3 separate regions of the Homo sapiens genome follow, and all the other regions are reported to be linked to region 3. Evidence: microRNA targets listed by miRTarBase, many of them from high-throughput screens and not tested one by one. Region 3 holds a microRNA gene; each other region holds the end of a gene's coding sequence.
Evidence for each region. Region 3 holds the annotated microRNA hsa-miR-4319 (UCCCUGAGCAAAGCCAC, at 2,240-2,256, shown strand). A microRNA usually pairs through its seed, bases 2 to 8, with sites in the 3' UTR of a target mRNA and lowers its output. Matches are read on the target gene's strand: a 7mer-m8 pairs with bases 2 to 8, a 7mer-A1 pairs with bases 2 to 7 and ends in A, and an 8mer does both.

Region 1 (3,252 bases), not on the chromosome of region 3:
AATAGTAATAATAAAAATAAAAATTAGCCAGGCATGATGGTGCATGCCTGTAGTCCCAGCTACTTGGGAGGCTGAGGTGGGAGGATCACTTGAGCCCGGGAGGTTGAGGCTGCAGTGAGCTGTGATCCTGCCACTGCACTCCAGCCTGAGTGACAGAGTGAGACCTGTCTCAAAAAAATAAATAAATAATAAAAATAAAAAGTAGCTAGCCGAGGAGTGAAGCCCGAGCTCAGGGTACAGGGTGGGGGTGCCCAGCTTGACAGAGCAGGTGGCGCGCTGGGAATTCCTGCTTCTCCCCACACGTGGCGGCAGCCTGGGGTCTCCTGACCCATCTGAAGTTCAGGCTGGCCACAGGCAAGCTCACAGAGATGGCTGGGGATAGCTAAGGCCTTCTGCAGTAGGGCGAGAAAGATCTGGGGGAAAGAAGAGCTCACGCTGAAAGCCCAAGGGTTAGAAGAAGACTGAGCGGGAGGTGGGGGTGGCACTGGAGGGGCTGCAGGTTTGGGGGCTGCCTCCCCTGAACTGAGTGCCTTGGGGCACAGGAGAGCCCTTCCCTAACTCAGCACATCCTCTTCCCCAGCTGTGGATGATGCCTGCATTTGGCATACACCCGGAGTTTGAGAACGGGCTAGAAAAGGATTTCTACGGCTACCAGATATGGTTCGCCATCGTCAACTTCGGCCTGCCTCTGGGGGTCTTCTACCGCATGCACTCTGTGGGAGGCCTGGTGGAGGTCTACCTGGGGGCCTGAGGCTGCCCACCCCCGGCAGAACCTCGAAGTGCCAAGGTGGGGAAGATGGTAGCCCAGAGTCTCTGAGCAGATGCCTCATTCTGAGGTGCCGAGACCAGCCTGAGGCTCTCAAGGCCTCCTGCTCCCCAGAGCCTCACTGAAGGGGAGGGCACTGCCTAGAGCCAGAGGCCAACAGCAGGGGCCTGGACACTGAGCTTCTGATGCCCACGGCCAGGCCTGGGCACATGCCTGCCCCCTGCCTTCCCACCACGATCCGCAAGCCAAGGGTGCACCCCAGGAGGCTGGCAGGGGCCCCCTCACGGCTACTCTGTGGGAGGGTCAGACCTACATGACCGAGTCTGGGGAGCTTGGCGAGGGGCACCCCTCTCCAGCCAGGACTCAGAGGTCTGCCCCCTGCTGCGAGAAGAGCACCTGGTCCAAGTGTGGCTCTGGACATCCTCAGAGCTCAGAGCTCCGAGCTAGGAGGCCAGCTCCTCTCCCCACACACCTGTCTCCTAATGAGCTCATTCATTGGCTGCCAGGCAGGGTTCAACAGCTCTCTCCTGCCGCATAAACCCTATTTGTTTAATGGATTGCATTCAGGCTCATGGCATTTGTTCCCAGGGACAGAACTGCTCCTCCGGACATGGTGGGAAGGAATGGTCCTTTTGAGTAGGGCTGTGGGGCTGGGACAGTCCTGCTTCCGGGCCAGGAGGGGTCTAACCCAGTTCTTCCTTGGTCTGATCCGGGGGAAGAGGTGGGAGAGACAAGTCCGGGCTCGTGTCTCTCCACCCCCACCCCTCCCCAGCACACCCTCTCTCTAGGACAGAGCCCCCGGTGACATTCTGCAGCGGGCTCACCATGCAGGCTGTGGCCCCTGGCTGCCGGTCCCAGGCCTGGCTCATCTCCTGAGCCATCAGGTAGGGCAGGAACGGAAGAGAAAGGGCAGGTGTGGCAGGCCATCCGTCTCCCTGAGCCCAGTGCAAACAGTGGGCTCTGCCTGGGACGAGGCCAGAGAGGGCAGCCCTGGCCCTGCAGGTGAGGCTCTGCCCTCCTCCTCACCCACCCCCACCGAAGTGAGTCACTAGCAAGCATAGCCCTCCCAGCGCTGTCTCAGTGGCTGCCTGGTGAGGCCCCATGGCCTCTCCTGTGGGCTCTTTCTCTGGGCAGCAACAGCCCAGGGGCCCAAACCCTAGGTGACAGGGTCTGATCCTGCTTTCCCACCCAAGAAAATAACAAATGCTGGTTCCCAGTCATGCACTGGGGGCCCTCTGGGGTGCAGAGTCCCCAGCTCCCCTGAAGACAAGAGCCACACCTGGCCCCTCGCCTCAACCACAGAGTCAGAATGTGGAGCAGGAGGTTTTATTGTAAAGAGGCCGATTGTACAGAGCAAAGATTGTTCTGACACGGGGGGCTGGGTGGTGGGACCCAGAGGCCAGAGCTGGGTGAAGGATGAGGGGTGGCATCGCCCCATCCAGGCAGTGGGCAGGGCAGGGAGGACTAAACGGCTGCCTCCCAGTTCCCTTCCCTGCCCCTCATTACTGGGTAAGAGGGAGCCAGGCTATTTCCATGGATCCAGGAGAATATAGCAGGAGACCCTCACCACCCCACACCATGCCCCAAGGATACGGGAGGTGCCCCAGTCTGGCTTTTGCAGTCGGCCAGCTCCCAGCCTCCTCGAGGAGCAGCCTGGCCACACCTTTTTCCCCTGGAGCCTGGAACAGCTGGCTTTGGGTTAGGAGGCTGGAAGCACCCCCTTACCCTGTCCAGGCACCTCAAGGGACAGCCCGTGGTTCCCTGGTCAAACCCCTTAGGGCACAGTGACCCATTGGCTTCTGCCTCTGGGGCTGGGTAGCACAGGAGTGGGTGGGCACTGAGGGGCCAGCACTGAGCCAGGTCTTAAAGAGGGAGTCCGAGTGTTGGGGGCAGTGGTCTCTGGTGGGGGCATAGCCCCAGAGATGGGGCTCCTGTGAGTCCAGCCTAGGGGTTGAGGGGGATCTGAGCCAGTTCACATTGTCCTGGCCACAGGGGTCTCTAGGGCATGACACTCAGGGCCACTCTGCCTGTTCCAGGCCCTGATCGTGGTAATTTAAAGCTCAGAATGGTGGATGGGGGAAGCCTCAGGGACCAAGGCCCTGCCTTCCCCTAGACTGAGCCCCTCGTCGGCTTCATCCTCACACCCGCTGTATCTCAAACAGCTTCACGTCGGTGTCGTACCAGACAGGGGGGTCCACATTCCTGTGGAGGAAATGGGGGGTTACCCAGGTGCTGGGGCACCTTGCAGACAAGGCACCAGGAGGAGCTGGGCAGCAGGAATGGCCAAGCCAACCCTTTCCATCCCGATGTCCCACCCTGGGCAGCGGGTGCCACCGTCAACCAGGCAAGGCCGCCTTAGTTGACTGTCTTGACATGAAGTCCACCATAGGTGGTGGGGCCCAGAGCTGAGGTCCCTGTTGAGCCCTGCTGGGCAGGCTCTCAGGTGGACACCACCCCACTCCCCGGGGCCCACCTCAGATAGATGA
Region 2 (3,252 bases), not on the chromosome of region 3:
TGTCTGTAGTTCCTGTGAGCCTGAGGTGCTGCATGTGCCCACCCCCGTGTACAGGCCCTGCCCCAGCCACAGCCCACTCACCTTTTGACCCTCCTGCTCTGCCTATACAGTTTGAATACCAGCAGGCTCAGCTGGAGGCTGAGATCGAAAACCTCTCATGGAAAGTGGAGCGTGCAGACAGCTATGACAGAGGGGTAAGTGCCTACTGTCCTCTTGGATTCTATATTGCAGGTAGAGGACTGGCATGGTAATAGGTGACAGCGTTGTTGGCTTGTGCACTGGTAGCTGCTGCTAAGAATGGGAAGGGCAGTGTTTTTGACTCCTTGGAGGTCCTGGAGGGTGTTTGTGGCTTTGGCTACTCCTTGCTCCCAGGCCTGGGCCATGCAAGCACACACCTTGTTTCTCTGATGCAGGACTTGGAGAACCAGATGCATATAGCGGAGCAGCGGAGGAGAACCCTGCTGAAAGATTTCCATGACACCTAAGTTGGGATGTGGATGTGCCGGGGTGAGGAAGATGTGGCTGCAAGGTCTCCCGGCTGCCATACTGCATGCTGCAGGCTCTGCCTTTCATGACCCCAGGCAACAGCCAGGGCCCCACTCCTGAGAGACACTGGCAACACCTCTTAGTTGATTTCTGTTTTCTTCTCTTTTCACTTTTTGTTTCTACCAGGGTAGAGGCCATGTTGAACTGGCCTCTTTTCAGGACTTTTATTTCCCCCTGGATGGTTGTTGGGAGGGAGGGAAAGTGTTTTCTGAATGGCTATTAATAGTATTAGATCATTACAACTTATGTAACTTTCAAAGGTTGTACAATTATACAAAAAAAAAAAAAAGGCAAACTATAGGATAACACAGAGCCCTTTTTGAAAATAAATTGGCATTGGAGTGTTTTACCCTCTAGCTGTTTTACTTAGAATGTAACATATGCTGCCTACCCACCTCAAAATGTCTGTACTGCAAGAGGGCCCTGGGCCTCTGCTTTCCATATTCACGTTTGGCCAGAGTTGTAGTCCCAAAGAAGAGCATGGGTGGCAGATGGTAGGGAATTGAACTGGCCTGTGCAATGGGCATGGAGCACAAGGGGTCACAGCATGCCTCCTGCCTTACCGTGGCAGTACGGAGACAGTCCAGAACATGGTCTTCTTGCCACGGGGTGTTGTTGTCTCTGGTGGTGCTGCATGTCTGTGGCTCACCTTTATTCTTGAAACTGAGGTTTACCTGGATCTGGCTACTGAGGCTAGAGCCCACAGCAGAATGGGGTTGGGCCTGTGGCCCCCCAAACTAGGGGGTGTGGGTTCATCACAGTGTTGCCTTTTGTCTCCTAAAGATAGGGATCTACTTTTGAAGGGAATTGTTCCTCCCAAATAAATTTGCTTTACCTTGGTCCTTTCTTTTGTGCCAGTATTCAAGTGGTATAGCTCTGAGCAGGGTCACATTTGGCCAAACCTGACACTGTCTTGCTGCATTCTCCTTTGGCAAACATCAGGGTCAGAATTCAGGATAGCCCTTCCTAGGGCACTGGACTTTCTGGCATGGGGGCTGTGTTTGCACAAGTTATTTTCATGTTACCTGGAGAGTGTCCAGAGGCTGCTCTGAGGCTGAGGTGTGTTCCCCCTTGCCTGGTTCCAGCTGTCAGAGGGATACCATCCTAGGGTCTGGGAATCCAAGGCCACGAGACTCCTTGGTTTGTGGTCCGAGATCCTGTACTAAGGAGGGTCTGGCCAGAGGAACAGACCAGCTTTTGCACAATGAAGCGCAAGGGAACAAGTGGTTTGCCTGGTGTCCTACCTGTCCTGAACCTGGTCCTGTGGGCCATTGAAAAGTTAGATCTGTGATCTCTGGGGTTTTTGTGGCTTTGTTCAATGCTTCCACTCTAGGGCAGGCAGAGCAGTCTATACTCTCCCAAGCCTGCTTGACCTCCAAGTAGAGCTGATACAGAGATCTGTGAATATTGTGATAGAAATTCTTTGGTATTCATACATTTCAGCTGCAAGTCAGCAATTTCCCAGGTACCATGTAAGCTATAAAACAGTCATTCTTAAAGACAGAGGATAGCTGTGACTCATGGGATCATGAGGTCCATGGCTGGTTGCAGGTTCCCTTTTTCCTTCCTCAGGTTTTGTCTCTTCCTGTGTTGTCCCCAGCAAGGGAGAGACTGTGGGGTGGATTGGGAGAACAGATTAGGAGTATAGCAAATGAACCCAGAATGGAACAGTGGGGAGCTAACTGTGAATGAGGAGAGTACCTGCTGCAGGACCTGGAGGTCAGGTGTGAATGCTGTATTGGCACAGGGAATAAATATCCTGGCGTCTGGAGCCTTCACCTCTCCGTCAAGTCCTTCCTGTGATACTGCCATGGCACAGGATCTGAGTTGCAGCTCTGCACCCTAAATCACACCCTGGGCATTGTCTGGGCTGCAGGGCTGCCAGGTTCTGTACTTGTGTCCAGCTGTGGCCCTGGATGCTGGAGCTGGAGGGTTTTCTGTGCTCAGACTGTAGCCTGTAGCTCTTGGCCTGTGTAGAGCCCCCTCCTGTGCCCTCAGTGGCTGTCGTTTGTTAACATCATCAGGAAGATGGGAAAGGTCAGGCAGAATTTTTCTGCCCTACAAAGGGTGGAAGAGAAAGGACACAGTATTTTCATGAATTTACCATATATCTTTGTTTTTCTTCAACGAAAAAGTTAATTGAGGCAATGTCATCTGCTCAAAGTTGAGTGGTTTATTCACAATAAACTGTAAGTTTCTGATTATAAAAATGTGTCTAGAGTCTTTCTTCATGGGGTCTAGGTAGTCTTCTGAGCCCACAGGGGTCTGGCCAGTGAACACCAGAGGAGTGCCTTCCTATCAGTCAGCCCCTTCTTCCAGAGGGCTGTGGAGGCCCCAGTGGCCAAACTCGGCTCTGTTTTCCCTTTCTGGCTGTTGGGGGAGAGGGCACCTGTAAGTGATCCCTGTGGAATGAAGTAGAAAATCCTGCCAGTTTTCCGCTCTCCTCTCCCTCAGTACAGGCTGAATCATTCCCCACCACAGATAGATCCCAGGGTTGTGGTAGAGTACTGATATAAATGTCCCAACCCCCCCATTCTGAGACCTCCGGACCCCTCCAAAGCAGACATGGGAATGTAGGGCTGTGGAATATGGCAGGGTGAACTCCAGCTTCACGGGAGCCCTAAGGGTTATGAAGAGACAACTTGGGGCAGAAACAAGTGTGGAGTCTAATCTCAAGGGTGAAGGACAGGAAATGAGGTTTGGATT
Region 3 (3,252 bases):
AAACTACTTTAAAGTTCATATGCAACCAAAAAAGAGCCCGCATCGCCAAGTCAATCCTAAGCCAAAAGAACAAAGCTGGAGGCATCACACTACCTGACTTCAAACTATACTGCAAGGCTACAGTAACCAAAACAGCATGGGACTGGTACCAAAACAGAGATATAGACCAATGGAACAGGACAGAGCCCTCAGAAATAATGCCACATATCTACAACTATCTGATCTTTGACAAACCTGACAAAAATAAGAAATGGGGAAAGGATTCCCTATTTAATAAATGGTGCTGGGAAAACTGGCTAGCCATATGTAGAAAGCTGAAACTGGATCCCTTCCTTACACCTTATACAAAAATTAATTCAAGATGCATAAAGACTTAAATGTTAGACCTAAAACCATAAAAACCCTAGAAGAAAACCTAGGCAATACCATTCAGGACATAGGCACGGGCAAGGACTTCATGTCTAAAACACCAAAAGCAATGGCAACAAAAGCCAAAATTGACAAATGGGATCTAATTAAACTAAAGAGCTTCTGCACAGCAAAAGAAACTACCATCAGAGTGAACAGGCAACCTACAGAATGGGAGAAAATTTTTGCAATCTACTCATCTGACAAAGGGCTAATAGCCAGAATCTACAATGAACTCAAACAAATTTACAAGGAAAAAACAAACAACCCCATCAAAAAGTGGGCAAAGGATATGAACAGACACTTCTCAAAAGAAGATATTTATGCAGCCAAAAGACATGTGAAAAAATGCTCGTCATCACTGGTCATCAGAGAAATGCAAATCAAAACCACAGTGAGATACCATCTCACACCAGTTAGAATGGCGATCATTAAAAAGTCAGGAAACAACAGTTGCTGGAGAGGATGTGGAGAAATAGGAACACTTTTACACTGTTGGTGGGAGTGTAAACTAGTTCAACCATTGTGGAAGTCGGTGTGGCGATTCCTCAGGGATCTAGAACTAGAAATACCATTTGACCCAGCCATCCCATTTCTGGGTATATACCCAAAGGATTATAAAACATGCTGCTATAAAGACACATGCACACATATGTTTACTGTGGCACTAGTCACAATAGCAAAGACTTGGAACCAACCCAAATGTCCAACAATGATAGACTGGATTAAGAAAATGTGGCACATATACACCATGGAATACTATGCAGCCATAAAAAATGATGAGTTCGTGTCCTTTGTAGGGACATGGATGAAGCTGGAAACCATCATTCTGAGCAAACTATCACAAGGACAAAAAACCAAACACCGCATGTTCTCACTCATAGGTGGGAATTGAACAATGAGAATACATGGACACTGGAAGGGGAACATCACACACTGGGGCCTGTTGTGGGGTGGGGGAAGGGGAGAGGGGGGAGGCATAGCATTAGGAGATATACCTAATGTTAAATGAAGAGTTAATGGGTTGCAGCACACCAACATGGCACATGTATACATATGTAACAAACCTGCACGTTGTGCACATGTACCCTAATACTTAAAGTATAATTAAAAAAAAAAAGAAAAGAAAACAAGCCCAGCCGGGTGCGGTCGCTCAGGCCTGTAATCCCAGCACTTTGGGAGGCCGAGGCAGGTGGATCACTTGAGTTCAGGAGTTCGAGACCAGCCTGACCAACATGGTGAAACCCTGTCTCTACTAAAAATACAAAATTAGCTGGGTGTGGTGGCACGTGCCTGTAATCCCAGCTACTTGGAAGGCTGAGGCAGGAGAATCGTTTGAACCCAGGAAGTGGAGGTTGCAGTAAGCCGAGATCGCCCCATTTCACTGCAGCCTGGGGAACAAGAGCAACACTCTGTTCCAAAAAAAAAAGGCCTGTGCATTTGTAATTATACCAACAGTGATGTATTCTATTGAAAACCAACTAGAATCGTTGTAAACAAAATATGAAATAAAGGTTGGTATACTATAGGTGTTCAATACATTAATAATAATCATTAATAACCACTAACATTTATGGTATATTTTCTATGAGTCAGGCATTCTGCTACATATAGGTACATATGCTACAACTTTATAAGCAGACACACCCCGTGAGTTACTAACTACTATTATCTCTATTTTGGATTTGCAAACACAGGCAGAGGTTGTTTAAATCACTTGCACAAGGCTGCCTGGCTGGATCTCTTTGGTCAGTCTCTTTCTTTTCCCATTTCCTTTCGGTGATAACTCACTGTACTAAGTCAGAGCCCATCATCACCTTTTTGGCTTGAGTCCCTGAGCAAAGCCACTGGGAATGCTCCCTGAGGACGTTATATGAGTGCTCAGCTCATGGGGCTATGATGGTCAAAGGAGAAAATGCACATGAATGTATTTTGAAAAATATGTCACTATCACGGAGCAGCCAAAATAACCAGATAAGGAGAATTAGGATTCTTTGACTCAAGGGCAGCAATAGGTTCAGGACATCTGCTTGCCTATGTGACCTCAAGTGGACATTATTTGGGGTTTTTCCAGGTGCACCTACACCTAAGGCCACACTGCTCTGCCTGCTGCAACAAAGTTTAAGGGGAGTGTTGTGTAGGTGGAATGAGGAGGTCAGCTATACACAGAAGAGGAGGCAGTGCAAGAAGCGGTAGAGTTTGATCTTCAGAATCATTTCACTTTCCAAACAATCAGGAGGATGTTGTGAGGGGTTGGGTAAAACTTCCTCTAGGCACAGAGCTATTAAATCACAGCTTCCTGGAGTTGGTACTTGGTGTAGGAGGGACAGATGGGGTTTCACAAATAAAGTCAAACCTAGAACCTAGCCATGGAAGTGCGCCTGCTTTTCTTGGGGCTGTTTCTCTAGCATGCCCTCAGCAGAATCAACATGAAAGGTCCCAACCTAAAGTCCCTCCTTTATTTGCATAAGAATATCTCTAAATGCTGAGATTTATAACTTCACAGGAAAGGCTTGGGAAGGAGGGAAAAGCTTAAAAGAACATTCTGTGTAGAGTTATGATGCTGCCAACAGTTCGTGGGTTGGACAGGGCACTGCGTTCCTAAAGATTAGACATAACTGAGGGCTTTTTCTTCTTTTTTAATAACAAGGAAATACAAATCCTCCCCTCTTGTCAGACTCTCAATTCTTCAGACGTTTTGTATCATTTTCCCCATTCAAGAGTAGCATTGAACTGAAGGGAAATTAGAAAAACTGCAGCTTTCTTCCCCCGCCTTGAAACCAAAGGAATGTAAAGATATCGAGTTTAGCTTTCTAATTACATTTCTGAGACTTCTATTTTTTA

Region 1: the mRNA of HID1 is a reported target of hsa-miR-4319. The part of its 3' UTR that is shown has no 7-base or 8-base seed match.
Region 2: the mRNA of ARIH2 is a reported target of hsa-miR-4319. The part of its 3' UTR that is shown has no 7-base or 8-base seed match.

Annotation. Positions count from the first base shown.
Region 1 is chr17:74,948,666-74,951,917 of GRCh38, forward strand. It overlaps HID1 (HID1 domain containing), which reads right to left. Exons shown (of 19, transcript NM_030630.3): 18 at 3,240-3,252; 19 at 2,077-2,968. The coding sequence ends at 2,905. It overlaps OTOP3 (otopetrin 3), which reads left to right. Exons shown (of 7, transcript NM_001272005.2): 7 at 581-1,327. The coding sequence ends at 751. Among named protein-coding and RNA genes, the nearest start is that of OTOP3, 14 kb to the left of the region's middle. RefSeq lists an enhancer at 1,452-2,410.
Region 2 is chr3:48,982,786-48,986,037 of GRCh38, forward strand. It overlaps ARIH2 (ariadne RBR E3 ubiquitin protein ligase 2), which reads left to right. Exons shown (of 16, transcript NM_006321.4): 15 at 111-194; 16 at 414-3,252. The coding sequence ends at 485. It overlaps LOC124909376 (a long non-coding RNA gene), which reads right to left. Exons shown (of 2, transcript XR_007095903.1): 2 at 2,700-2,948. Among named protein-coding and RNA genes, the nearest start is that of P4HTM, 5.8 kb to the right of the region's middle.
Region 3 is chr18:44,969,144-44,972,395 of GRCh38, reverse strand. It overlaps MIR4319 (microRNA 4319), which reads left to right and starts at 2,230; the gene lies at 2,230-2,314. All of the region lies in intron 4 of SETBP1 (SET binding protein 1), which reads right to left.